Regions from separate parts of the Homo sapiens genome. Here all the other regions are linked to region 1. Evidence: fine-mapped expression QTL. A gene starts in region 1. Each other region holds a variant in brackets. All regions are shown on one strand. Distances are between the middles of the regions.

Region 1 (5,106 bases):
TTTCATTTATGTAAAATTTTACCAGTCGATTAAGATGATACCTCCCAAGTATTACAGCTGCATGTTAATAAGTATGCTGTACTTATTAATAATTAATGATGTATTAATGAACATTTTTAGAGATATGCTTTGAGACTATGTAAATATCCTGTTCCTCATCAAACTTTTACCCACCAATTTTAGCATTTATTGATGATTCTGGCCTGAATCAATTATTAAGATGGTGGTTGCCAAATGGTGGTTTTCTAATTCTATCTTTTCTTCTTCATTTATTAGTCGCATTCTACTATAGAGTTCCCTTCTCTGTTTCTATCAGCATGGACTCATGGACTCTTATTTTACTCAAAGGGTTAAATTTGTCATTAACTATTTTACTCCTTAAATAGTTCAAGATTTGGCCAACAGGAACCCCTTCAAGCTGACTTCTGTCTTCTTTTGACATGTCTCCATAATTCTTTAAGTATTTTCTCATTTCCTTGCACAACAAATTATTCTAGTTTCATCCACTATACCAAGGAACTGTGGTTCCTTTCAGTGGAGGATGGTATTAAGAAACCAAGGTCTGAGTGTTAGGTGTGTTCATTGCTACTGGGGTGCCATTGCTTTTAGGCCTTCTCAGTCGACAAACCTAGGAAATATATCACCATATACACACACATATACACTTATATTTTTCTGTCTATCTATCTATAATCTCTTTGGATCCAAAATCATTTTACACCTTCATCTCCAACTTCAAGGCACATAGCTAGATCTCTTGCCTTTCTGTATTGGTAATTCCCTTCTCCAGCAGTGAGATGACTGGCTCCAATTTTCTTAATGTATTTACTTCTTTGCTCAATTCCCTAGCACATAAACCAATCTCTTGGCCATGTCAGCAAAAAATGTGTCCTGTCTCTATTACATACATATATATATAAAATACCCCCCACATACATACACATACATATGAAATCAGATATTTTATGTATAAGAAACCATACTACATAGATATATCAGGAATCCCATATAATACACAAAATGTATCAATATGAAAATACATATCTAATTCCTATAAATATCTGATTTCACATATTTTTTTTTAAAGAGAAGTACACAGTAAGGCTTTCTTCTGATGAGCCTGGAGCCTGCTGTTTATACTTCCACAGTATTATTCCTTCATGCTGTACTTGGCCCTCAAGGAGCTGCTAGCCTCAGAAATGCAGAGTTCCCACTGGGTGTGGTGGCTCAAGTCTGTAATCCCAGCACTTTGGGTGGCCAAGGCGGGTGGATCATCTGAGGTCAGGAATTTGAGACCAGCTTGGCCAACATGGTGAAACCCCATCTCTACTGAAAACACACAAAAAATTAGCTGGCAGGCACCTGTAATCCCAGCTACTTGGGAGGCTGAGGCAGGAGAATCGCTTGAACCTGGGAGGCGGAGGTTGCAGTGAGCGAAGATTGCACCACCACACTCCAGCCTGGGCAACAAGAAGGAAACTACGTCTCAAAAAAAAAAAAAAAAAAAAAAAAAAAAAAAAAAAAAAAAGCAGAGCTCCTCAAAGCGGAAGTTTCCCTAGTTGCTACCTTTCGCTCCATGTACAGCCTATTCTTTAACTGTGACAAACGGCCACAGCCAGCTCCACAACCGGCTTGAGCCAAGTATTGAGCCTGAGGAAAGAAAGATTTTATATTTCAGCTTTAATAAACAACTGGGACATCTGTTACAATTCTATTTTCCTCACTAGGCTGGGTATGGTTTCTCTTGGTTGCAGGTTTCCCCCCACCCCCCGCCTTTCTGTGTACTAAGCCTACCATAACACACATGTCTGCTTGTGTGTTATCCCATTCGACGTGAAGGCTTCAGGGCAGAGACTGCTTCCTTTATTATCCATTTCTAATGTTAGAAGAGGGTCTAACACAGAGCAGGTGCTATTTGTCTATTGAAGGAAAGAATGAATACATCCATTAATCAATGTAGAATGGCGGGAAAAGACACAATTTGGGAAGGAGACTTTACTCTTTAACTTCTGGACCCATGTGAATGAGGAGTCCAGGTCATCCATCGTTAAAGGCATTTAGGTATTTTATTTCAAGTATTTTTCCCCTTTTCTGGTGACATACTACAATTCAGGACTAAATCTCAAATTTATTCTTGATATTGATAGCATTGATATTGCACACAAATCCCACGGTTACCGTCCAGCACTAGTGATCTTGTCCTATTTCCACCTGCAGCTTTTTGAATCTAAGTACACATCGCATTTCAAAACTCCCACGTTAAAGAAAGGCATCAGTTCAAGTTACTTTCTCATTTTCTGTCTTCGACTTTTTTCTGCTTCCCCCAAGAATATCTGAGAGTTACTTTTCTCGAAAGTTCTTTTGTAGTGTTCCAGATAGGAATCATCCTGTAATATTCCAAATGCAGCGTGTGGTGTGCATGTTGAATACATAAAAATGACGAGGTTAGGAACAATATCGCTGACGGTCGCGGTGTCCCGTTTTAATTTAGAGGGCGCCAGCAACACGTCAGTGAGGGAGATTCAGAAGCCGCCGGGCACCTCACCCCGGGCCGGGAATCCCTAAGAGAACCTTGACGCCGCTGAAGTTTCCGGACCGGGCCAGTTTGGAATTGACGAAAGCAGCCTCCGCCCGGTCGAGCCAGTCTCTCGGTTTTCTCGGCGGCTTCTTGAGGATGAGGCATTTCTAGGTTTTCTCCTCCTCGAGCAAATCACGGTCTGCGCCTTCCGCGGCTCTGGGAACAGGTGAGCCGTGCGGCGGCGCCCGCGGGACGCGCTCAGGTGCCGGTCCCCGCCCGCCGGCCCCTCCCTGCAGCACGCGGTCCGGGCCCAGGTGCCGGGGCCCAGGTGCCGGCGCCCAGGTGCGCGGGGCACGGGGCTGCAGCTCCGCTCGGCATCCGACAGCGGGCGCCGCTGCAGCAGCTCGCGGGCCGCGGAGCTGAACGGCTTCGCGAGTTGGGGCAGCTCCTCGCGCTCGGCCCTGCTCGGCGGCGAGAGCTCCGCCTGGGCGCCGCGTTCCTACAGCCGCCGGAGCCGCCAGGCGCCGAGGGAACGGACAGACCTCCGCGCACCCTTGCCGACCGGGGCGGGCAGAGGCGGGCAAGCGGCGAACGCCTGGGAGCGCGGAGAGCCAGGCCAGCCCGGAGCGCGCCGGGGACACCCTGTGCGCCCCGAGTCCCGGCACCATGCGACCCGCCGCGCGTCCTCGCGGGCCCGGGGCTTCGCTCTTCGCTCGCTGAGCCCCTGCGCTCGCCACCACGGAAACTCGGAAAGAGGAGGCGAGGCTGTGGGGAGCGGCGCGGAGACGGACTAGACTTCCCCTCCGCCCCCAAGAGGCTGCCGGTCCCCGGTTCCCTGGGCTTCTCCAGCTTTATCATGAACCTGGCGCAAGGTTGGCTTTAGGAAAAATTCTGGAGCCAGAGGGAGAGTCAAGGCAATTCTTTGGTTGCTAAGGTAATTGTAGTTGTGATAAAAAATGGGCAAGAAACAAATGGGGGAAAAACATGGTTTAAAACAGTATCCTCCCTCCCCACCCCATTAATATGTGTTGATTTCATCTCCTGGGTGTGGGTGCTTGTCCATTTCAGATGCGTGACAGGTGCCCGTGTGTGTGTGTCTGCAGTTTGGGACTGTGGAAGCACGAGCTTACATAAGTGGTTAGGCAAGCTGGCGTGTGGACTTGTGTGGGATGGGTGCAGGTCTGCATATAAATCATGTTCCTGGGTTTCTGGGTGTGAAGCGCACACCGACGGGGACGAGAGCGCAGAGGATGGCGCTTTTAGATACTTCCAGTCTTCCGATGTTGTGATCGCAGGTAGGGCAGCTTTGCCTCTAATCAGGCGTTCATTAACTTTTTCCCTGAACAAGCTCGCCCATTTGTGGTTTGGAAGAAAAGAAAGCGAGTCTCCGCGGTGAGGTGTGGAGGGCAGGGGCGGGTGGGGAGGTTTGTTGTTTGGGAACTGCGCTAGCAAAGGAAGCGGTGGCTATTCGCTTGGAGAGGATGACAAATGAACTGGTTGCGTGAGGAGTGAAGAGACCGTGTTTACAGTCACCAGCAGGCTGCGTAAAGAAGTGGCCCAGTGAGACAGGGAAAGTGACCCAGAAAATTTAGTTTTGTTCAGAATGAAAGCTGCTGTATTTCATTTTTGTTTCTTAATTTGACGGAGTAGGAACGTTATTTTCCTTCTCTGTCATTGAGACCAGTAGCATTTCTATGTTACAAACTGAAGATATTTGGGGTCTCGTCGGCTTGGGATTATCAATGCTTGGGAGGTGAGTTCTGATCAATACCTTTAACAACCCCAAAGAAAAACGCAAAAATAATCAAGTTTAGGTAAAACTTCCACTGGACTTTCTTTCCAGGGAGGGTGAGAGATGGAAGAACTGGGCTTGTAAGTATCAAAATGGAGTTAGAGAATGAGCTACAAGTTTGTGTGTGTATGGTCTGTCAAAAAGTGTTAAGACTGAAAGGAAACTGTTAGGTTTAGTTAAATGTGTTGACAACACGGCTCTTACATATCAATTTTCATAGGCAAATAGGTAATTACATAGAGTGGGAACTGGGACTATGGTGGGAAACTTTCTGTAAGATGTATATTCTTTATTCTTAATTTATCACTTTTTCAATGGGTGGGACTACTCTGTGAAGGAAAGTAGAGGGCTGAGGGACATTTGGTGAGACTCTTGAGAGAGAAACCTTTGCAAGCCAAATCTCGCATGCTATAGATGATAAATTCTAAGTTCTTTGATATTGTACCACTCTTAAGCTAAATTGTCCTGTAAATATGATCTCATGCACCATAAACTATATATATGTAGAGAGAGTCTATTCCCAATAACTCATCCTTTCCTGAAAGAGTCTGCAAGTTCTATAAATGTCAGCTGTTGGGAGGTATTGTGATGAAGGAGAGAGGCCACCAGTGTTTCCTTTTATATATTTATTCTGGCAGATCTTAACTTTACTTCTGATTTTCTTTAAGGAATTTCAGTTAACATTCACTGAATTTATATTGCTGAGAGTTTCAGTAAAACAAGACTAGATTTTCTTTGAAGCAATAAATTCATCTTATCAAGTGAAACATTATGACAATGCTTTTGTGGCAGAAAT
Region 2 (5,106 bases), 480 kb after region 1:
TAGAAGATGACCCGCGTATTTCCAAGGTTTCCTCCAGGATTGCTGGGGCTGTCTGCGTCCAGATGTTAAGGTTACTGTAGACAATAAATGGGAGAGGGTGAAGGAAGGAGGATGTTTAGAGAAAATTATCCAGTCACCTGGAGGAAAGGCTCTTAGCTGCAAAAGAGGAAATAAGGGCCAGGCACAGTGGCTCATGCCTGTAATCCCAGCACTTTGGGAGGCCGAGGCAGGCAGATCATGAGGTCAGGAGATCAAGACCATCCTGGCCAACATAGTGAAACCCATCTCTACTAAAAATACAAAAATCAGCCGGGCGCAGTGGCACACGCCTGTAGTCCCAGCTACTTGGGAGGCTGAGGCAGGAGAATTGCTTGAACCCGGGAGGCAGAGGTTGCAGTGAGATGAGATCGTGCCACTGCACTGCAGCCTGGTGACAGAGTGAGACTCCATCTCAAAAAAAAAAATAAGAAACTGCTATTTAGCACAACATCAAATAAGCAGTTTGTTGCTTATGTCTGAACACTTCTGTGAAAACAGGCAAAGGCAGTCGTGTGTAGGTTCTGGTGACCAGGAACTGGAGCTGCACAGAGGTGTAGAGGCTCCCAAAGCTCGTCAATTGTTTATGAAGGGAGTAAAGGCTGGAAGTCAGGGGGTGGGTGTCAGTTTCTGCCACTAGCTACCAGATTTCTCCTAAAGATGGGAAAGCTCCCTTTATAGAGCTGGAGTGCAATTTTGTGTTTTCTTTGTGTTTGGCAATGTCTGTTACTGACTTGCAATAGATATGCAACAGTATAGGTATGTTCATCTTAGTATTTTGGGGACAAAACTCCCAAACCAGCCACCACACAAATGTATTTATAGGTACCAGTAGGCACCTTTGGACTCGGAGGGAAGTCAGCCTCCTTAAAGCCGTATTCAGTAAGGAGAATGAAGGGTAGGCATGGCTGCAGCTTGGGTTGTGCCCACCATGTGGATATCCAGCCATGATCTCAATAGTCAGGTTGGTCCACATTGTCCAGATATCTCCATGTAACATTAACTCAGACTTTATGAAAATAACCGGTGAGAATAACCAAAGCCACATTGGGTAATGAAAACTGTATGTACAATTTTCTTTAGTTACATTGATGTTGTTACATACTGTTCATAATTAATTACATTGGTTTGTAATGTATCATGTCCTATTGTATTGTAGGTTCTAATACCAAGACCCTAGGTGTTCCTCTCTTAAAAGCTGGTGACCACCTTTAACTCATGTGGTAAAAGAATGATAGTTCTGGGAGGATCTGCATTCTCTCTGTGTCCATGCAGCATTGCCCCACACTGCCTGTGCTGAGCTGCATGATCCTCATAGCTACATCATAGTCTTTGCTTGTAGGCTTGTCGTTTGGAGAACCGTCTTGGAGTCTTTATTGGTTGATGTCAATGGAAAGCTCTGCTTCCCTCTGGATGTCCTATGGTATTGCTGTTCCTAATGTCTTTCTAATGAGTGCTACGTGTCTGTATGTGTGTATAAAGAGATTTATGTAAAGAATTGGCTCATGTGATTACGGAGGCTGAGAAACCCCAAGATCTGCATTTGCCACTAAGTACTCAGATATTTGGTCAAACATGATTGTGAGTGCTGTTGAGTGCTGTATTTTTTAACTGCCACGTAATCCCCTCAAGGTCCGTGTTATTCTAGACAGTAAACCGGGAGAGGCTTCTAAAGCCCCCTTTGTCAGGAAATGTTACTTTAGAATCTGACCTTGTGTGAAACACAGATGACAGAACCTCTCTAGTGCAATGACATTAAAATCCTCCCCCAGTACTTGAAGTGCAAGGGAAATAGCTCATTGCTATTATGGCTGGATCATCTCATGGCCTCTCAACAGATCAAGAGCACCATTACTACTGTTGCTTTCTTGACTTGTGTTTTACTTTTATTCTAACATTTGTTGCAGTCTGTGTTAAATAGGGAGGTAGACCAAACTATGAGAAGGAGCCCTATATTGGAAACTGTATAGCCAACTATGAAACCTCCAGGCTTACTTTGCTTTCTCATTACAGGCGGCCTTCCCCTCTGCTCCACTGGAGAGAGTCAGAGTAATTGGCTCTTGCTTTATATGAAGGATATGCTCCCAAAAAAGTTGTATTTAAATCAAGTTTTAACAAACCGACTCATGCTTGTTTATCCACTTATAACACTTACTATTTAAAGGAAATGATAAAGAGTCCTTT[T/C]CTGTTGTTACAGCGTAGTTGGCAAAGCTGTATCTTCTGAAGACTGACTTGCACTCAGCAGTTTTAGATCAACTCGAGTCTGTTTATACTAAGATCCACAGACCCCTGGTGGTTCTCAGATGACTTGCAAATTCTACTAGTTTTTCCAATTGTGTGTTTTTTGATGATAACTTAAAAATTTTTTATGATAATCTTTTCATTGTTTAGTATAATAATGTACAGATAAACCCTAGATGATCACCTTATAACTGAGTGCTGTCATGAGATTTCAGTGCCTTTGTTCTCAGTCCTGTAGGTAACCAAGACTTCATCTAAAATCACATCACTTGACTTTAAATGTTTGCAAGACACATCTGACTGTCATTGGGTTGATAAAATCTGTCTTGTCCTCATTTTGTGTTGTGTGGGACTCTATCATCAGGTACAAAAGCAAAACTCCTTTGCCATGAGCGTTCACAGTTGAATGACTTTTTTATAGACCAAGAGTTTAGTTTCTTAGAGTATATATTGAATCAATTTGGCATCATGGAAATGGCATAGTACATTAGAGGCACATACTATGTTAACTGTCACAATCTAATGATAAAGAACAGAAAAGGACATATTACATAATCGGTGCATTTCTGTTAAAGTCATGGCAAGCTTATTGAACTAGTTTTATAGCAATTTGGCAGGATAAAAATGATGGGAGGATGGAGTCATCATAGGGTGCCTGCCCTGTAGCATGGACACCTGGGACACACCTTGCTGGATGATGTCTTCTTTGGGTTCCATCTTAATACATGACAACTGGAAATAATTCTGTAGCAGAAAGTAGAGTGTAAAATAGAAAATGACTCTTATTCTGATGAATCAAAGTTTTTAAGCCATATATGTCGGAGTACACTTGAATTACTTCTGTAAAAACTAGCACATTATATAAAAATCATAATAAAAACAGAGATTCCAGTGAGGGGTCCCTCTTGTTCAGAGTCGAAAGATTCAAGTCAACAAAAATGGAACCTGTAAGTTAGTCTTTTTGCCACTGTTAAAAGAAAAACACTGGACACAATACTTTTAACAGAGTTTATGTGAGCATTAGAGGATTCATGAATTGGGCAGCACCCAGAACCAGAAAAGGTTCAGAGAGCTCTACCCAGCAGCATGGGTAGTGAGCTTTAATAGGCGGAACGTGGAAGTAAGACAAAGAAAACATATTTGATTTGTTAGAGTAGAAAGTCCCTAGTTAGAGGTTAGTTGGAGGTTTCTGATGGTAACTTCTCTAGTTTCATTTTACTGTTCACATTGGGCTTTGGTTTGCTTACCTAGGAACTTAAAGTGCTGGGAATGCTTCGGCTTAATGACCTCCCAATTAAAATTTTTTTAACATCACTTTTATTTATGATCTACAAAGTGGCAACTGCCTATTTTTTTTTAATTTTATTATTATTATACTTTAAGTTTTAGGGTACATGTGCACAATGTGCAGGTTTGTTACATATGTATACATGGCCATGTTGGTGTGCTGCACCCATTAACTCATCATTTAGCATTAGGTATATCTCTCAGTGCTATCCCTCCCCTCTCCCCCAACCCCACAACAGTCCTCGGTGTGTGATGTTCCCCTTCCTGTGTCCATGTGTTCTCATTGTTCAGTTCCCACCTGTGAGTGAGAACATGCAGCGTTTGGTTTTTTGTTCTTGCAATAGTTTGCTGAGAATGATGGTTTCCAGCTTCATCCATGTCCCTACAAAGCACATGAACTCATCCTTTTTTATGGCTGCATAGTATTCCATGTTGTATATGTGCCACATTTTCTTAATCCAGTCTATCATTGTTGGACATTTGGCTTGGTTCCAAGTCTTTGCTATTGTGAATAGTGCCGCAATAAACATACATGTGCATGTGTCTTTATAGCAGCATGATTTATAATCCTTTGAGTATATACCCAGTAATGGGATGGCTGGGTCAAATGGTATTTCTAGTTCTACATCCCTGAGGAATCGCCACACCAACTTCCACAATGGTTGAACTAGTTTACAGTCCCACCAACAGTGTAAAAGTGTTCCTATTTCTCCACATCCTCTCCAGCACCTGTTGTTTCCTGACTTTTTAATGATTGCCATTCTAACTGGTGTGGGATGGATGGTATCTCATTGTGGTTTTGATTTGCATTTCTCTGATGGCCAGTGATGATGAGCATTTTTTCATGTGTTCTTTGGCTGCATAAATGTCTTCTTTTGAGAAGTGTCTGTTCATATCCTTTGCCCACTTGTTGATGGGGTTGTTTGTTTTTTTCTTGTAAATTTGTTGGAGTTCATTGTAGATTCTGGATATTAGCCCTTTGTCAGATGAATAGGTTGCAAACATTTTCTCCCATTCTGTAGGTTGCCTGTTCACTCTGATGGTGGTTTCTTTTGCTGTGCAGAAGCTCTTTAGTTTAATTAGATCCCATTTGTCAATTTTGGCTTTTGTTGCCATTGCTTTTGGTGTTTTAGACATGAAGTCCTTGCCCACGCCTATGTCCTGAATGGTATTGCCTAGGTTTTCTTGTAGGGTTTTTATGGTTTTAGGTCTAACATGTAAGTCTTTAATCCATCTTGAATTAATTTTTGTATAAGGTGTAAAGGAGGGATCCAGTTTCAGCTTTCTACATATGGCTAGCCAGTTTTCCCAGCACCATTTATTAAATAGGGAATCCTTTCCCCATTTCTTCTTTTTGTCAGGTTTGTCAAAGATCAGATAGTTGTAGATATGCAGCATTATTTCTGAGGGCTCTGTTCTGTTCCATTGGTCTATATCTCTGTTTTGGTACCAGTACCATGCTGTTTTGGTTACTGTAGCCTTGTAGTATAGTTTGAAGTCAGGTAGCGTGATGCCTCCAGCTTTGTTCTTTTGGCTTAGGAT
Region 3 (5,106 bases), 560 kb after region 1:
ATTATCCAGAGACTCCAAATCCAATGACAAGTGTCCTCATAAGACAAAAAAGAGAGCGGATGACACAGGCACAGAAGAAAGCCATGTGAAGACAAAGACAGAGATGAAAGTGATGCAGCCACAAGCCAAGGCATGCCTGGAGCCACCAGAAACTGGAAGGAAAAGAAAGGAAAGGAAAGGAGAGGCAAGGCGAGGTGAGACGAGGCGAGGCGAGGTGAAATTATCCCCTAGAGCCTTCGGAGGGAGGATGGCCCTGCCAACACCTTGATATCAGACTTCTAGCCTCCAAAACCGAGTATAAACTTCTGTTGTTTTAACCATTTGTGGTCATTTGTTATTGCAGCCCTAGAAAACTAACATATTCCTCAACATGCAATGCCATTTCTTTTATAAAGAATTCAATCAGCCCAAGTAGCTAAGAAGTGGCTTCCAGGTGCAGCACCAACTTGTAGCCTGGTCCTTCCTGCCATAGTGCTTTCTTACAGCTCCCTTGCCCAGGTTCATTCTGCCTGAGATGTCGTAAAGCTCTTGATATGGTTTGCCTGTGTCCCCACCCAGATCTCGTCTTGAATTCCCATGTGTTGTGAGAGGGACCCAGTGAGAGGTAATTGAATCATGGGGCAGGTCATTCCTGTGCTGTTCCCATGATAGTGAATAAGTCTCATGAGATCTGATGGCTTTAAAAATGGGAGTTTCCCTGCACAAGCTCGCTCTCTTTGCCTGCTGCCATCCATGTAAGACATGACTTGCTCCTCCTTGCCTCCCACCATGATTGTGAGGCCTCCCCAGCTACATGGAACTGTAAGTCCATTAAACCTCTTTCTCTTATAAATTGCCCAGTCTCAGGTATGTCTTTATCAGCAGCATGAAAACAAACTAATACAGCTCTTATTGGTGAAGCCTGGCCCCAGGGAAGATGCATACCTTGCAGGAGATTTATAGGACAGAGGATGTGCCTCTAGTGTGCCCGTGGTTTCGCTTGTCTATTTTATATTTGTAGAGGATTGTCAAGATTCTTTGGAGATGCTTTCCCATTTTCTATCACAATGGTCCTGAGTGCTCAACAAGCCTGTTATATAACATGATGAACTTGACAAAGATCAGTTAAATGACTCAACCAAGAATTCAAACTAAGGCTTTTCAACTGGGACCACTGCTGCTTCTACCCCAGGGGTCATGATAAACACCTGGGACAGCGAGGAGGCTCTGAGGTGTCCGAAAATTTACATCCATCTTCAAAACCAAAATTACCAGGGGCTCTTTCATTTTGATTTGATGAATAAAACATCTTGTGTCCTGAATGTTTCAGAAAATTGAGGAATGAGATATGGTTCTCTCAAACTTGGATGTGCATATGAATCACCTGGGGGATCCTATTAAAAAGCAGAATCTGACTCAGGAGGCCTGGGCTGGGACCTGAGATCCTGCATTGCTAACAGGCTCCCAGGTGATGCCAGTGCAGCTGGTTTATGGATCACACTTCCAGTAGCATGAGATGGCACCTCTGACTAATTTCTCTGCCTGTTCAGCATTAAGCTAATTGGCCATTATTGCCCTTTGCAATTCAGTAGTAGGAATTGTGGCTCTGACTTTGCTGTTGTGGGAGAAGATGCTGACACACAAGCTGGCAATGCTTAAGGAAAAATTTTATTGTGGATCGATAACCATAAAAATATTCATACCTTTTGGTCAAATAATTCTGCTTATGGATATGCATTCTAAATAAATAACCCAGAAGATGAAAAAAAAAAATCTGTGTGAACAACGGTGTTCTACCACAGCACTATGTATATTAAAAAAGAAAAAAATCTGTGTCTAATAAAAAGGAAACGATTAAGTAAATTGTAATAAAGTCACTCAATGCAACCAAGACAATATTGTAGACATATGTTCATCTTCTCCCTTTCCTCAAATGCAACATGTCACTAAAGGAACAAAAATGGCATGAACTCACAAGGTTAACAAACTATTAATAATTTCAACACATTTGTCCAAGATACAAAGTTTACGTAATTGGGGAACATAACCACAGGCCCCTATGTCTGTATTTGTTATTTTTTATTTTTTTAATTGGTCAGCGAGTACAAGGTATCAAAGTAAAATCTTACAATTTTTATACATTTCTGTATGCCTGAAATATTTCAAAATTTAATAAAAAAGAAAGTGCATAGGGACAGAGTAAAGAACATTCTAACCTACATGTTGGGGGCAGAAGT[G/A]ATGTGACAAAGTGAGCCAGTTTTCGCAACAAAGCCTGGCCTTGGCTCTTGAAGGCACTAGGGACCATGGAAAGCAGGAATGAGGCATGGGGCTAACAGCAGAGGAATGGTCAAGTCTGTCACAGGAGACTTTGCACCCCTAGATCTCCTGCCCTACTAGGAAACAATCCTTCCCACCTACCACCACTGCAGGAGATGGGCAGTTTTTTCTTGAGAGAAATTGAGCCACATACGCTCAGATCTCAGACACATCAGATCTCATAAGAGGCCACCTGAAAATAAGAGAATTAATGGAAGCTCTACGCACTGAACTGTGGGGCCTGTAGGGATGGAAAGTGTGATACCTTTCCTCATCTACCATAAGGATTACGGCCAACACTGCTATAACAAAAGAGGTTAACAAGAGAAAAGCATAAATGCATTTATTTCATCAGTTTCACATGACACAGAAGCCTTCAGAAATGAAGACTCAAAGACCCAGGGAAAACTGTATTTGTGCTTAGGTTCCATGAAGAATGGGAAGCCTTGTAGAAATGTGATTGGACAAAAGGGTGTGATCTACTGGTAACAGACTGAGGGGAGGAAACCCAGCAAGGCCTGTCTGTTCAGATTCTTCTTAGTGTCTCTGAGTAGCATTCCTACCTCCCAGGTAGGACCTCTCTGGAATGAGGGTTTTCAAGGGAGAAGGGAGCGAGTGACCTTTCTAGGTTTTGTGGCTTGCTTTGCAGGAGAGGCATTCTAGTTTCTATGACCCACTTTGGCGAAAAAGAATTCTTGTTTCTATGACTTACGTCGGGGGAGAAAAAGGGATGGGAGACGGGGGCAGGAGAGAAGGTGAAAGCCTTGGCTTCTGAGGCCCTTCCATTCTCCTTTAGTTCAAAGTACTCAGCATGCCAACATACTATACTTTAGGGTATCATGTTCTGAGCCCCAACAGACCCTCAGCCCCTCCCCGACCCTGCTCTCAGGCCTCCAGGAGCCAGACATATATACCCACAGGCAAGAGACTGTCAAAGTACAACCTGTGGGCCAAACCATACTCCATTCTGTTTTTGCAAATAAAGTTTTATTAGAACACAGTCACACGCATTCATTTGCAAGCTGTCTATGGCTGCTTTTATGCCACAGCAGTAGAGCTGAGTAGTGGCAACAGACACCATCTGGCCCACAAAGCCTAAAATATTTACTATCTAGGCCCTGCAGAAAAAGCTTGCCAATGCCTGCCCTAGGGAAAAATAGACGCCCCAGAGGAAAGACTCCAGATCCCTCATTTGGAGCTCCCATTAAAATACTGGTAAACTTCCCTATGACAATGAAGCCCATCAGTGACAAGCCCCATCCACACGCCCACTGAGCCGCCAAGCAGGTTTCAGTACCTCAGTCTTAAGTACAAATGGATGTCCAAAGATTTTCCAGACACTCCAGGAAGGCTCAGCGTGAAAGAGTATAATCAAAATAAACCGACAGAAAAAAGGAACTTGGAAGAACCAAAATAATTCAACAACTGGAAGAAACTTACAATAAAAGTATAGAACTCATATTATCTGAGAAATGAGAAGGTATTTCATCCATAAAACAAGAACTAGACACTATGATAACCAAAAGTGAACTCTGAAACTTAGAAAGTAATGGCTCAAAATTAAAAAATAAATAAATAGTTAAAAGAGAGTTTAACAAAAAGACAAGGAGATGAAAAATGGGAGGGAAAATAAACAATTCAGGATGTCCAATATTGAACTGGAAAAAAAAATATAGGACAAGCAAACAAAGGAAACAAAGGGTTTAAAATTAGTGATGAATACTATAAAATTCCTGATAATTATTTTCTTATCTATCACACACTGTGCCCAGCATAGTAAATAACAACAACCAGCAAGGGCCATCATGAAATTGCAGAACACTCTAGCAATAAAGAGATGATTCTAAGTTGACAGAGAGAAAAGAAACTGAACCAAAGAACGAGAATCAAAATGGATCCAGGCTTCTCAATAGTAACACTGCATACCAGAAAAAAAAAAACATGGAGTGATGCCTACAAATTTCTAAAGGAAAGAGATTTTTCACCTAGTGTTCTATGTCTAGCACTATCAGTCAAGTATGGAGATAAAAGCATTTTTAGACTTGCAAGGATTCTCATGCATCCTTTATTACGAAACTACTAAAGGATGTGCTTCAACACAATCAGGGAGTAAAAGCAAGAGATAGACATGGAATCCAGGAAACATGGGCTTTTCAACACAGAAGTGAAGGAAGTCCCAAAAAGATCATTTTCCATCAAGTCTATAGAGCAAATGATCCAGTTTCGAGCAAGAAGACTAAAGACTTCAGGAAAGAGGATCTCTGGGAAACAAGAGGACAGAACTGCTCAATTATTTGATGTGTTTAAGGTATAAAAAAATGATTGCTAGATGTTTTACAGGTTTGTTAAAACACTTGCTTGGAAAAAGTAGTATGATATTTAGCTGAACAGCAAACAATTTTTATCTAGTTTAATAATGTTACACTGACCATTGATTTAACAAAAATTGTAACACAAATCTATTTGGAGGATCACGTAAGAAAAGGAGGGAGTTGAGGACTGGTGAATAGAAAGATAAATTCTTGTCTAAAATAAAAAAATCAGGAATAGATATAAAAGCGTATAATTTAGAAATATATAGGTAGCTTTTAGAAAAAACATAAGGTGGAAAGTAGATGCCTCTCTGAGAAGGGATGGGAGGAAAAAATAATTGCTTTTGCTTTTTTAGTATATATAATCATTTGGTACTATTTTATTATTCTAACTATTCACATACATTTTGATAAGAATAAAAATTAGTCTAAAATAAATTATATCAATCTATAAGATCAACATATCTATTAGATCATAATTATAACTAGAAAAGTTGCT
Region 4 (5,106 bases), 170 kb after region 1:
CATGACACAGATTGGCAATACTGTCAGAGACCCAGTTTCTTTTGTGCTTTCTGCTCTATTTTTTGTAGTCTTTCAGCCTTTATCGTTGGGCTTATTGTCTCAGGGTTGCAAAATGACTGGTCTGACTGCAGATTTTCTAGGAGGGAAGTGCAAAGTGGTGGTGCTGGCCACAGCTTTCCTTCTTTGTCAGGACAGCAAAAGTTTCATCGGAACTCCCCAGTGGACTTGCTCTCTTAATTCAAAATGGCTGTAACAGTGTCACGTTGGCTGCACCTGTTTCAAAGAAAGTTCAGAAAATTGGGTATTTCACAGACACATTAAGATTTCAAACAAAGACGAGAGCATTCACAAGGAACAGAGAGGGAACGTATGTGGATGGGGCAAGTAACTGCCAGTCATCAGCCTGTTATGTACTGTACACATAGAGTTTTGCTGTGCAGCAGCAAATATAAAAATGAATGTCATCACCATGAAAGTGGAAAACCGTATTTCAATGTCATGCAAATGCCATAATTGAAATGAAAAGATAGGAAATGCTGGTGCATTGTCTACATTAATGTATTTGGTTGTTGACTTTATTGCATAAAAAGTATCAGTGGGGACGAGATAGTTTTGCTTTGTTTCAGAAGATTTTGCTTTTGTTTTTCCCAGCTAAGAAGGGAACCTTAAAAATAATGAGGAGGGCCGGGTGCAGTGGCTCACGCCTGTAATCCCAGCACTTTTGGAGGCCGAGGCAGGTGGATCACTTGAGATTAGGAGTTCAAGACCAGCCTGGCCAACATGGTGAAACCCCATCTCTACTAAAAAATACAAAAAAAATTAGCTGAGTGCGGTGGCACGCACCTGTAATCCTAGCTACTTGGGAGGCTGAGGGAGGGAGAATTGCTTGAACCTGGGAGGTGGAGGTTGCAGTGAGCTGAGATTGCACCACTGCACTCTGCACTCCAGCCTGGGTTACAGAGTGAGACTCTGTCTTAAAAAAAAAAAAAGAAAAGAAAAACACACAGATGTATGAAATAGAGCTTATTAATTCTGTATATATTCACAGAAAACGCATACTTTTATGCCTTGATTATCTTTAGGTGATCATGGGGAACAGGAGCCCAAAGATAATTAACAACTGTGCTAAAACAACAAAACCTCAATTGGGCTACAAATGTCAATATCATGTACACAGGTGGAAAAGACTCTTCTTTGATTTCATATTTTTCTTTTATTTCCTTGGCATCCCTGTTCTGGTTATGTCTTGCTGTGTACTCTAGACATAGGTTTTGTGGGTTGACTGAGCTCAGCCGGGTGGTTCTCACTGGGGTCTCTTATGCCCTGGCTCTTAAATGGCAGCTGGGGCTCCTACACATGGCATCTCCATATGGCTTAGGCTTGTCACAGTCTGGTGGCTGGGTTCTGAGGCTGAAGTTTCCAAGAGACCAGGGGGGCTGCTGCAAAGCTTTTAACCTGAGCTTGCAAGTCATGAAGCATCCACTTTCCGTTGGTTGTGCTGGACAGCCCAGATGAAGGGGCAAGTTCCCAAGGACGTGGATACCTAGAGGCATGGTTCATTAGGGACCAACTTTGGAGACAAACAACCACAGTCTCCTTCCTTCTCTTCCCTTGGGGATTGAAAGGGTTATCAAAAGCTGGCCAGAAAGAGAAGCAAAGGGTGAGGATACCGCTGCTGCAGCACGTCTGTAGTAGGGAATGAACCCAGAATGTGAAGAGTTGCCATTCTAGTACCCTCGAGTGTCCTTTTCATGCCATTGGAAACTTGACAATAGTAATTGGGAGTGAGTTGAAATCTTCAGCTTTCTACCTTTGTATTGTCCTTTCAGAGCAAAAAGAAGTAAACATTAACTTAAAAAATGCTTTTGATATTAATAGTTACAAACAAAAAACAAAACATGCAACAATTCCAAGCTCAAATCAAAACCAACACTGAGCTTTGAGGTGCAATTTCTATTCTATGTGTGTGGCCATCTCCTCTTGTGTTAGTGGCTGAGCAGAGAATGCTCCATTCCAAAATAAATAGAATTAATTTTCTTAACAGCATCTTTCTTTGTGCCAAGAACACAGGG[T/A]TACAGGAAGCACATCTGAATGTACCATTGGCAGGTTAAATCATTCTCTTTACTTTGGTCTTTGGTGGGTTTTTATGTTTGTTGCTTTTCATCTGAATGAATGGCAATAGAGCAAGTTTTAAAAATCCTTAGGGATCTCCAGAGATTCCTGTCTTGCTAAGAAACAGGAAGGCCGCAATTAGCAGAGACCAAGAATGAAGAGGAGGAGAAGGGGGCGGGTGTCTTTGTTGCTGTAAACTACTAGTTTTCACCATTCTGCACCTTGGGCTGTGTTGCTGCTGCTACCTGGAACACCCTTCCTCCCCCTCCTCTGCCGGGAAGACTCCCACTTAGCCCAGATGCAGCCCAGCTGCTGGCTTCTGCATGCAGCCCACCTCTTCTTGCTGGACAGGGTGGCGTCTTGTCCCCCACACCCACAATTCCTGTGCCTATCACTTTGTCTCTGTATTCCTTCCTCAGATTGTAGCTCCTTAGTGGCAGGGACCAGCTCTTAGCCTGATATCATCAGCCAAGCAACGTGTAGGATGCAGAGGTTTGGCAAAACTTTGAAAGCGGGAATGTATAGTCAACTATGTCGATGTCTGGGTCATTTTTCCAATGTCTGGTAGCAATTGTGTTAGGTGGCTTATACCTCTCCTGGACCCACACATAGCAAATTCTAAAAATAACAAACTGGACCATATAAGCTTTTCCAAAAGCCTGGGGTGGGGGAGATGTTATAATATCCTGACATAGCTGTGCTGTTGTTCATTTCACCTCTGTCACCTAGAGCAACCCCCTCCATGTTTTCCAAAACCGCCCCCATCCTCGGGGTCTGGTTTGGGACCCCTGTCCTCCTGGAGGTCCTCTTTGAACCCTCTGGACCCTTCTCTCAGAGCCCTCTGGTACCTTGATGTCACAGCATTTCCTGTAATTTCATTTCCCTGGCCTCTTGGCTAAGATAATAGGCTCCTGTCCTTGCTTTTTCTCTGTCCCCTGAAAGGGGTGAAGTCGTGTGGACATGTGGCAGGTGCCACTATTGTTTATCTGCTGAACACTAGCACTCCCCGTGCCTTCATGCCATCAGGCAGGGGGCATTTGTTCTTTTGACGGTGTGGACAGGGGCAGAGTTTAGTGGCATTGTTCTTTTTTAGCTTAATGAGCACGAACTGTCAGAGCTTGGACCAAATTTTTCTTGCAGATATATTTTGATTGACAGGCACAGGATTTTTGGAGATAATTGAAAGAGTTGCCAACATTTATCAGGAGACTGTACATAAAAATACAGAGTTCCAGTTTCCCTCAAAAATTTGGAAGTTTTGGCAAAATTGAGTCCCAATTACCAAAAATTGCTTCTAACCAAGCAGTAACTATTCCCTTCACACAGAATGAGCCTCCCTTCCCTCATTTCCTGTAAAATGGTACTGCATGTTCTCCTCTTTCATTTGTGTCACCTGCCTCATTGGTGGGTAAGTTGTTCTAGAAAATGTCTATCATATGTGCTGCTGTACTGCTAAGTGCGTAGAGCCCTAGTACCCACAGGGCACACACAAACAAACCTGGTATACAAAGAACTTCTGTGCGGATTTCTTTCTTATTGTGCACATTTTAAGGGGCATCAGTCTCTGTCCATGCATCCTTAGAATTGTATGGCTTTTTCATGATTTGATTTATTCAACAAGGATCGAACAGTCTGTTTGTATTGAGTATTTACTATATATTAGTTACTGTTCTAAGTATAAACTCATTGATCTCACAACTCTGAGATGGGTGCTTTTACTATCTCCATCTTACAGATGAGCAGCAGTTTTTTTGTTGTTTTTTGAAATGGAGTCTCTCTGTCACCCAGGCTGGAGTGCAGTGGTGCGATCTCGGCTCCCTGCAAGCTCTGCCTCCTGGGTTCATGCCATTCTCCTGCCTCAGCCTCCCGAGTAGCTGGGACTACAGGTACCAGCCTCCATGCCCGGCTAATTTTTTATATTTTTAGTAGAGACGGGGTTTCACCGTGTTAGCCAGGATGGTCTCGACCTCCTGACCTGGTGATCTGCCTGCCTCGGCCTCCCAAAGTACTGAGATGACAGGCATGAGCCACCGCACCCTGCCTAGAAGCAGCTTTAATACCAGGTCACACAGCCAGGAAGTAGACTAGCTAATGTTTCACCTTAGGCACAGGTGGAGGGAGTCACACATCTGTAAGATTTGTTCCCAGGACAATATCATTTTCTTTAAATGTCTGTTTTGGGAGGACTTCAATGAGCTCTCAGATAGAAACACCCATTTCCAGGGAGCATTCTTACCCTAGAAAAAGCTTGGGACAGTTGTATTCAGACAGCTCTGCTGTTGACCATGTAAGGAACTCTCTGCCACTCTTCCTCATAGCTTTGGCGGGGATTATTTGTCTTTAGACTTGTTCCTTTTTGTGAAAGTGACAGTAGTGATAGTCATTAGTAGTTAGTAGTCATGGTTACTTTTGTTGAGCACTTACAGTGCCAAATGTAGTAAGCACTTTCAAACTGTATTACTCTCCCCGTTTCTACTTGGGAAACTGAGTATTACTGTGTGAGTGATGGGGACTTCTTGAAAGATCCTAAACATGGGAATGTCGTAATCAGGTTGCTGTTTCATGGATTTGGTTCCGAAAGCCAAGCAGAGAGCGGGTCACCAGCACAGTAGTAAGAGTCAGGAAAATTGGTTGAGACTGTTGTGTACAGGGGAGAGTTGCTTGGGGCTTGAACTAAAGGGACGGTGAAGAGAGGGGTAGGTTTGAGAGAGACTTAGAAGATAGTAATGGCAAGGCCTGGTAAAAGACGGGAGTGATTTCCAGTTTTACAGTTTGGACGGCAGCATGGATAAGAAAGAATATAAGGGGCTGGGTGTGGTGGCTCAGGCCTGTAATCCCAGCACATTGGGAGGCTTAGGTGGCCAGATCACTTGAGGTTAGGAGTTCAAGACCAGCCTGGCCAACATGGTGAAACCTCCTCTCTCCTAAATTAGCTAGGCGTGGTGGTGCACACCTGTAATCCCAGCTACTCGGGAGGCTGAGGCAGGAGAATCG
Region 5 (5,106 bases), 29 kb after region 1:
TTTGCCTTAATACATGGGAAGCTAAAGGAGCCCCCCCATTAGCATGTCTGCCCAAACATCAGGCAGCATGGGATGGGAGGAAGGGATCAAGTGAAGGGAAGGCAGGCTCCATGGAATCTAGGTCAGCGGTTTCCAAACCTGGCTGTACTTACAAATCATCTGGAAAATGGTTAATCTGTAAATCTCCAGGGACCACCCTAGGCCTATTGGATCAGAACTTCTGGAGCATGGGAACCGGGAGTATGTATATTTAGAATATCTCCCAGGTTATTCTGAGACTGCTAGCCTAGTTCCGGTCCTTGGGCAAGTTTTTGGGAACCACTGAATTCTAATCGATGTCCTAAAATGATTAAGTGATTATATCCCAGTAAAATACTGGGTGTCTTCCAGTGCCACCAAAATTGGCCTTTAGGGGTTGAGTGCTATTGCCGTACTTTAAGATCTTGGTGCATTACCTGAAACGGACACTCTGTCTGTCATTGAACATTTGAACTTCGAATATATAGGAAATGTCAAGTTGGCATACTCTGCTATAACAGGAAGAGTGATTTGTTATTTAGAGCTGTTGTTCTTCCTTCTTTCCCCTTGGGATTCCTGCCCACTCAGTCAGATTAGAGCTATATAAACAAGCTCGTACTACTGAGCTAGCACACATCTTGTAAATTTTTTTTCCTGAAGTGCTTAACGTTGCTGATGTCAGAAAAAAAAAATCCATTGGGTTTTAATGGGCTGAGGCAAACAATGAGAATTTGATATAATATGGAGGAGAGGAAATAACTTCAACAGAAATTCTTATTTGGCAGCATAAATATTCAAACTATATTACAGTCAGAGTTTGATTGCTTCTCCTACATGGCATTTCCCTGAATAGGGTTTTGAGGGCTGGGCACTAAGAGTGGCAGGCATGATGTTTAAAGCATTTAGTTGCAAGCCATGGTAATTTCAGTGACATTGTAGGGTAATTGTAGTTGGTTCTCCTCTTAGCTCTGTGTCAGGATCACCTGAGGAGGTTGTTGGACCGCTGAAGGCTTCATCTCTGATGCACGAGTCAGAACATCTGAGGGTGGGGGTTGGGGTGGGATTCTCCATTGAATCTGATGCCAGTGGCCTGGGAATTTCACTTGGCCAAACCCTGGCTTAGAACAAGGTCACTGGTCAGTTTCGATATTCATTCTGTGCTGGGGCATTTCCATGACTTAGTGTCTTCCCTCTTCAAAAGCAACCCTGCGTGATGGAGGGGTCTCATCTTCCAGGCAAGGAGCTGGAAACGTAGGGTGGGAGAGCCCATTGTCAAAGGCCACATAGTAGCCTTAATGAGGCTAGAGCTGAGATGTGATTCCCAGTCTGACTTCAAAGCCCTTCCTTTTCCTATACCATCGAGGCCCTTCCTTCCTGCTCTGCTCAACATTGTTAGCTGCCGAACCCTAGGCTTTGCTTGTTCCAGAGGGGCTGGCATTATAAAGTAAACAGCAGGCATTTATTGTAACTGCAAGTTACAGATGCAGTGTCAGTTTGGAGTAGACTTGCAGGCACAATCCTGACTTTCAATGATTCACGAATCTGTTTGTGTCACAGGTGCTCAATTGTCCTATTATGCATAGAGCATCCCCTTCACTATATTTTCTTCCCTCACCACATATTCCTTCTTACCTAAATTGCTTATGAATTCCAGAAGTGGATTGCTGAGTCCAGGCTGGTTCATATCAATAAACCTTGGGGAAAATCTTTATGTGTGATGCTATACATGGGTCTTTGTTGATCAAGAGTCTTCTTTATTGGCCACTTTTAATGGCTTGTTATCCAGATGAATCTTCTGGAAGGAGGACACTGCATCCTGGTGGAATTTTATCAGTTCCATCATTCATTCAAACATATTTAAGTACCTTCTATGTGCCAGGTTCTGCTCTAGGTGCCAGGGAGAGAGGGGTGAACCCCAACGATAAAGTCCCTGCCTATGAAGAACTGACTTTCTAGAGA[G/A]GAAGTCCCTGATAGACAAGTAAACAAAGTCCCGCAGATTCAGATAGTTGCGAATCCCTGTTATCTCACTCTCCACACTTGGCTGTCTCCCACTTAATCTTTCTGGGATCAGATTATCTTTGTGGCTTTTTTCTCTTGACTGTCTAGCACAAAGCTGAGCCGCTTCTGGGGCTTCAGATTTCTATGCCTGTGTGTGTGCATAGCCTTGGCTGGAATGGCAAACTTTGCCTCTCCCAGGCTTCTGCTCATCTGTCACCTCCTCCTACTCTGTGCCATCATAATTGAGCAACCACATATTACAGTGTCCTTTCTGTGAACACATCTGTTATTCCTACCGGTCTCTGAACATTTTAAGGAGAGGATCTGTGTCTGACTTATCTGTATATCCCCAGGGCCTAGCATGGAACCTTACAAAAGTAGATGCTCAGTATATTTGCTCAAAGAATAAATGATGAGTTCCAAAGAACCTGAGGGTGGGTGGTGTGGTATAGGAATTCCGTCATGGGGAGGGATGCTGAGTCAGATGGGGGATGCTCCACCGCAGTGGTTTTGTGATTTATTCTTTGAGACATTGAGTGCTGTCATGAATAGAGGAGATGGGCTGGGATATAGGCAGTATTGACAGAGACACGTGGCATGGAACATTCTGGTGAGAACCTTTGAAGGAAAGTTAGAAATGTGAGGTTCTGAGGGTCTAGCTCAGAGCTGGAAGGAACTCTAAGGTTGCTGGATTTTATAGCCAATGCCCAACTGAGGTCCAGGGAAGCTGTGTGTCCTGGTTCTGATAGTTGGTTAGTTGCAAAGGAGCTAGGGGTGGGGTGATACCAGGACTCCTAGTTCAGAGGGCTTTCCACTATGCTGGGGCTATGGTGTGTGACAGATAACAGATTAAAGGCACAGAGAGGAGAAGGAACTTGCCTAAGATCACACAGCTAGGAAGTGGTGGAGCCTGGATTTGGACATGGATCTGTCTAATGAGAGGCATCTTGTAACCATCAAGCTGTATTGTCTCTTCTTGAAGACTGTGAAATGCAAGGTCCTAGCCCATTTTCAGTTTTCCTCTTGGGTTAGCTGTGAGTCCATATAGGAAAATAATATTAACATGCTTTCTTTCTTTTGGTATGCAGTTACATGTTTTCAGAAAAATGTTCACATTCTTCAAATGTTAATATTGAAGCCCCTGGGTTGTTTACTGTGTGTATATATATGTATATATAAGTACAATGAAGAACATTCTGTTTTTCTCTACCACTAAATTTAAACCCATTTCTATTGTACTCCATTTAAAAGAAGTATTTTACATCATACTATAATGAATGAAAACCTAGTCCTTTAATTTCACAAGCCCCAGCTTTAATAGTCAATGAATTTAATTAGAAAATCTTTACCTATGTAGGTTTCACATCCAGTTCTCTATAACATCTGTTGACCTATGGACTAGAAAGTATATTATTATTTTAGAAATGATTCTTTCTAGACACAGGAAAGCTAAATAGCTTGTCTGAGTTTCAAAACGAGTTAATAGAGGAACCAAAAATAGAAACATTTCTACTGAATACGAGGCTTACTAAAATTCTTCACACAGAGACTATCTGCATTCACTTAGTAGTTTCCAGTCTAGACTCTGGAACATCAGCCTGTTTTAACACACACAAATGCTTCTGTTGGTGGGAGGGGGTGGCTGGGCAGAGGGAGGCCGGGCAGAGGGAGGCCTGACACGTTTGTTTCTAGGTCATTTCTAACCTTGCTATTATAATACAGTTTTCTAGATAGAAGAGAATGTGCTCATTAAAGTGTTCATTTTAAAATAAAGCGACAGAAACTTAAAACGTCTCTATTACATGGATACATGAGTATATATAAATGAACTCAATTTTTGTTTTCATGCTCTGTTGTATTCTGTATTAAGGCAAAGGAGTAGGCAACTAAGTAGTTGTTTAAAAATAAAACTGTGTGTTGTTCATTTAATTTTAAAAGCCATTGGTTAGAATGGTAATCAGTGTTTCCATGTAGTACTATATTCATAGAAATCCTGATATTACAGTGTATAGAGATAATATTATAGAATGATGCTCTTTACCTCTTTATGTAATCTAATTTTAAAAAACATTGTAATTTATAAATAGTGAAGAAAGCAGGTAGTGTTATTCGAATGGGATATTTTCGGCAATTAAATTCTTAGCATAAATTACAAATTCCTCTCTCTCCCATTTTCCACCCAAATTTGTTTTTATGGAATGACCTTTGGTAGCAACTTGTTTTATAATAAAATGTTTCCTGAATTTGTATTTTGAATTGAAATGGCCTTTTCTGTCACGTATGGTATTTATAAGAGTTTCTTTGATGAAAAGCCTCTGAATTTTGTGCAAATAACCCAGGCAGCCTCTTAGATGAGGGATAACATTTGTATAGGACTTTTATGGCTTTATACTCTGCTCTCATACTCAGCTTATTTGACCCTTACCTGCGGGGAACTTGGTGGAATTCACATTTTACTGCTGAGGACAATGTAGAGGAAGGTGCCTTGGCATGACTCAGAGCATATAGCAGGTGTTTGGTATGTTTGTTTTAAAGGGAAATTAACAAAAGAAACCCAAAAGATTCTTGTACTTGCTCAAGGTCACACAATAAATATAGTGTCATACCAAGGATTGAACTTCCTTCTTCACTCAAAACTTCCATATACTTGTTCTTATCTCACTGTTATCTTTTCAGGCTTTTCAAAAAGGCCACATTAAATATATTTATTTTTCTTAATTGAGGTGAAATTCACATAACACAAAATTAGCCATCTTAAAGTGTATAATTCAGTGGCATTTCATGCTTTCACAGTGTTCTACAGCCATCACCTCTATCAAGGCCCCTGAAGGAGACCCTGTATCCATTAAGCAGTCACCCATTCCATCCTCCCTGCAGCTACTGGCAGCTACCAATCTGTTTCTTGTCTCTGTGGACTTACCTATTCTGGATATTTCATAAAAATAGACTCCAGCAATATGTGACGTTTTGTGTCTGGCTTTTTACACTTAGCGTGTTTTCACTTAGCATGTTTTCAAGGTTCATCCACGTTGTAGTGTGTGTCAGTACTTTATTTCTTTTTATTGCTCAATGATATCCCATTGTATGGAT

Direction of the effects. Positions count from the first base shown, and alleles are read on the strand shown. Sizes are in standard deviations (SD) of each study's normalised expression. Not every link is listed here.
For the expression in lymphoblastoid cells of the gene that starts at base 2,940 in region 1, G is the low allele of the variant in region 3 and A is the other (moderate effect, 0.55 SD a copy in GTEx).
With allele A in place of T in region 4, the expression in tibial nerve of the gene that starts at base 2,940 in region 1 is lower (large effect, 0.82 SD a copy in GTEx).
For the expression in whole blood of the gene that starts at base 2,940 in region 1, G is the low allele of the variant in region 5 and A is the other (small effect, 0.23 SD a copy in GTEx).

What was found. PIP is the estimated chance that this variant, and not a neighbour inherited with it, causes the effect.
Region 2: its variant is fine-mapped to the expression of RGS6 in whole blood (TOPMed, PIP above 0.99).
Region 3: its variant is fine-mapped to the expression of RGS6 in lymphoblastoid cells (GTEx, PIP above 0.99).
Region 4: its variant is fine-mapped to the expression of RGS6 in tibial nerve (GTEx, PIP above 0.99). The same link has a PIP of 0.9 or more in adrenal gland.
Region 5: its variant is fine-mapped to the expression of RGS6 in whole blood (TOPMed, PIP 0.91).

Annotation. Positions count from the first base shown.
Region 1 is chr14:71,929,490-71,934,595 of GRCh38, forward strand. It overlaps RGS6 (regulator of G protein signaling 6), which reads left to right and starts at 2,940. Exons shown (of 18, transcript NM_001204424.2): 1 at 2,940-3,452. LOC124903404 (translation initiation factor IF-2-like) reads left to right here and starts at 2,437. Exons shown (of 2, transcript XM_047432046.1): 1 at 2,437-2,536; 2 at 2,680-3,401. The coding sequence starts at 2,437. The coding sequence ends at 3,401. RefSeq lists silencers at 2,729-3,008, 3,029-3,188.
Region 2 is chr14:72,405,930-72,411,035 of GRCh38, forward strand. The region is part of intron 3 of RGS6 (regulator of G protein signaling 6); the gene reads left to right. LOC105370559 (a long non-coding RNA gene) reads right to left here. Exons shown (of 4, transcript XR_944018.3): 3 at 1-74. Among named protein-coding and RNA genes, the nearest start is that of MIR7843, 110 kb to the right of the region's middle. The variant T/C (reference allele first, on the strand shown) is at 2,221.
Region 3 is chr14:72,489,545-72,494,650 of GRCh38, forward strand. All of the region lies in intron 12 of RGS6 (regulator of G protein signaling 6), which reads left to right. Among named protein-coding and RNA genes, the nearest start is that of MIR7843, 25 kb to the right of the region's middle. The variant G/A (reference allele first, on the strand shown) is at 2,217.
Region 4 is chr14:72,095,305-72,100,410 of GRCh38, forward strand. The region is part of intron 2 of RGS6 (regulator of G protein signaling 6); the gene reads left to right. Among named protein-coding and RNA genes, the nearest start is that of RGS6, 170 kb to the left of the region's middle. The variant T/A (reference allele first, on the strand shown) is at 2,073.
Region 5 is chr14:71,958,631-71,963,736 of GRCh38, forward strand. The region is part of intron 1 of RGS6 (regulator of G protein signaling 6); the gene reads left to right. Among named protein-coding and RNA genes, the nearest start is that of RGS6, 29 kb to the left of the region's middle. The variant G/A (reference allele first, on the strand shown) is at 1,978.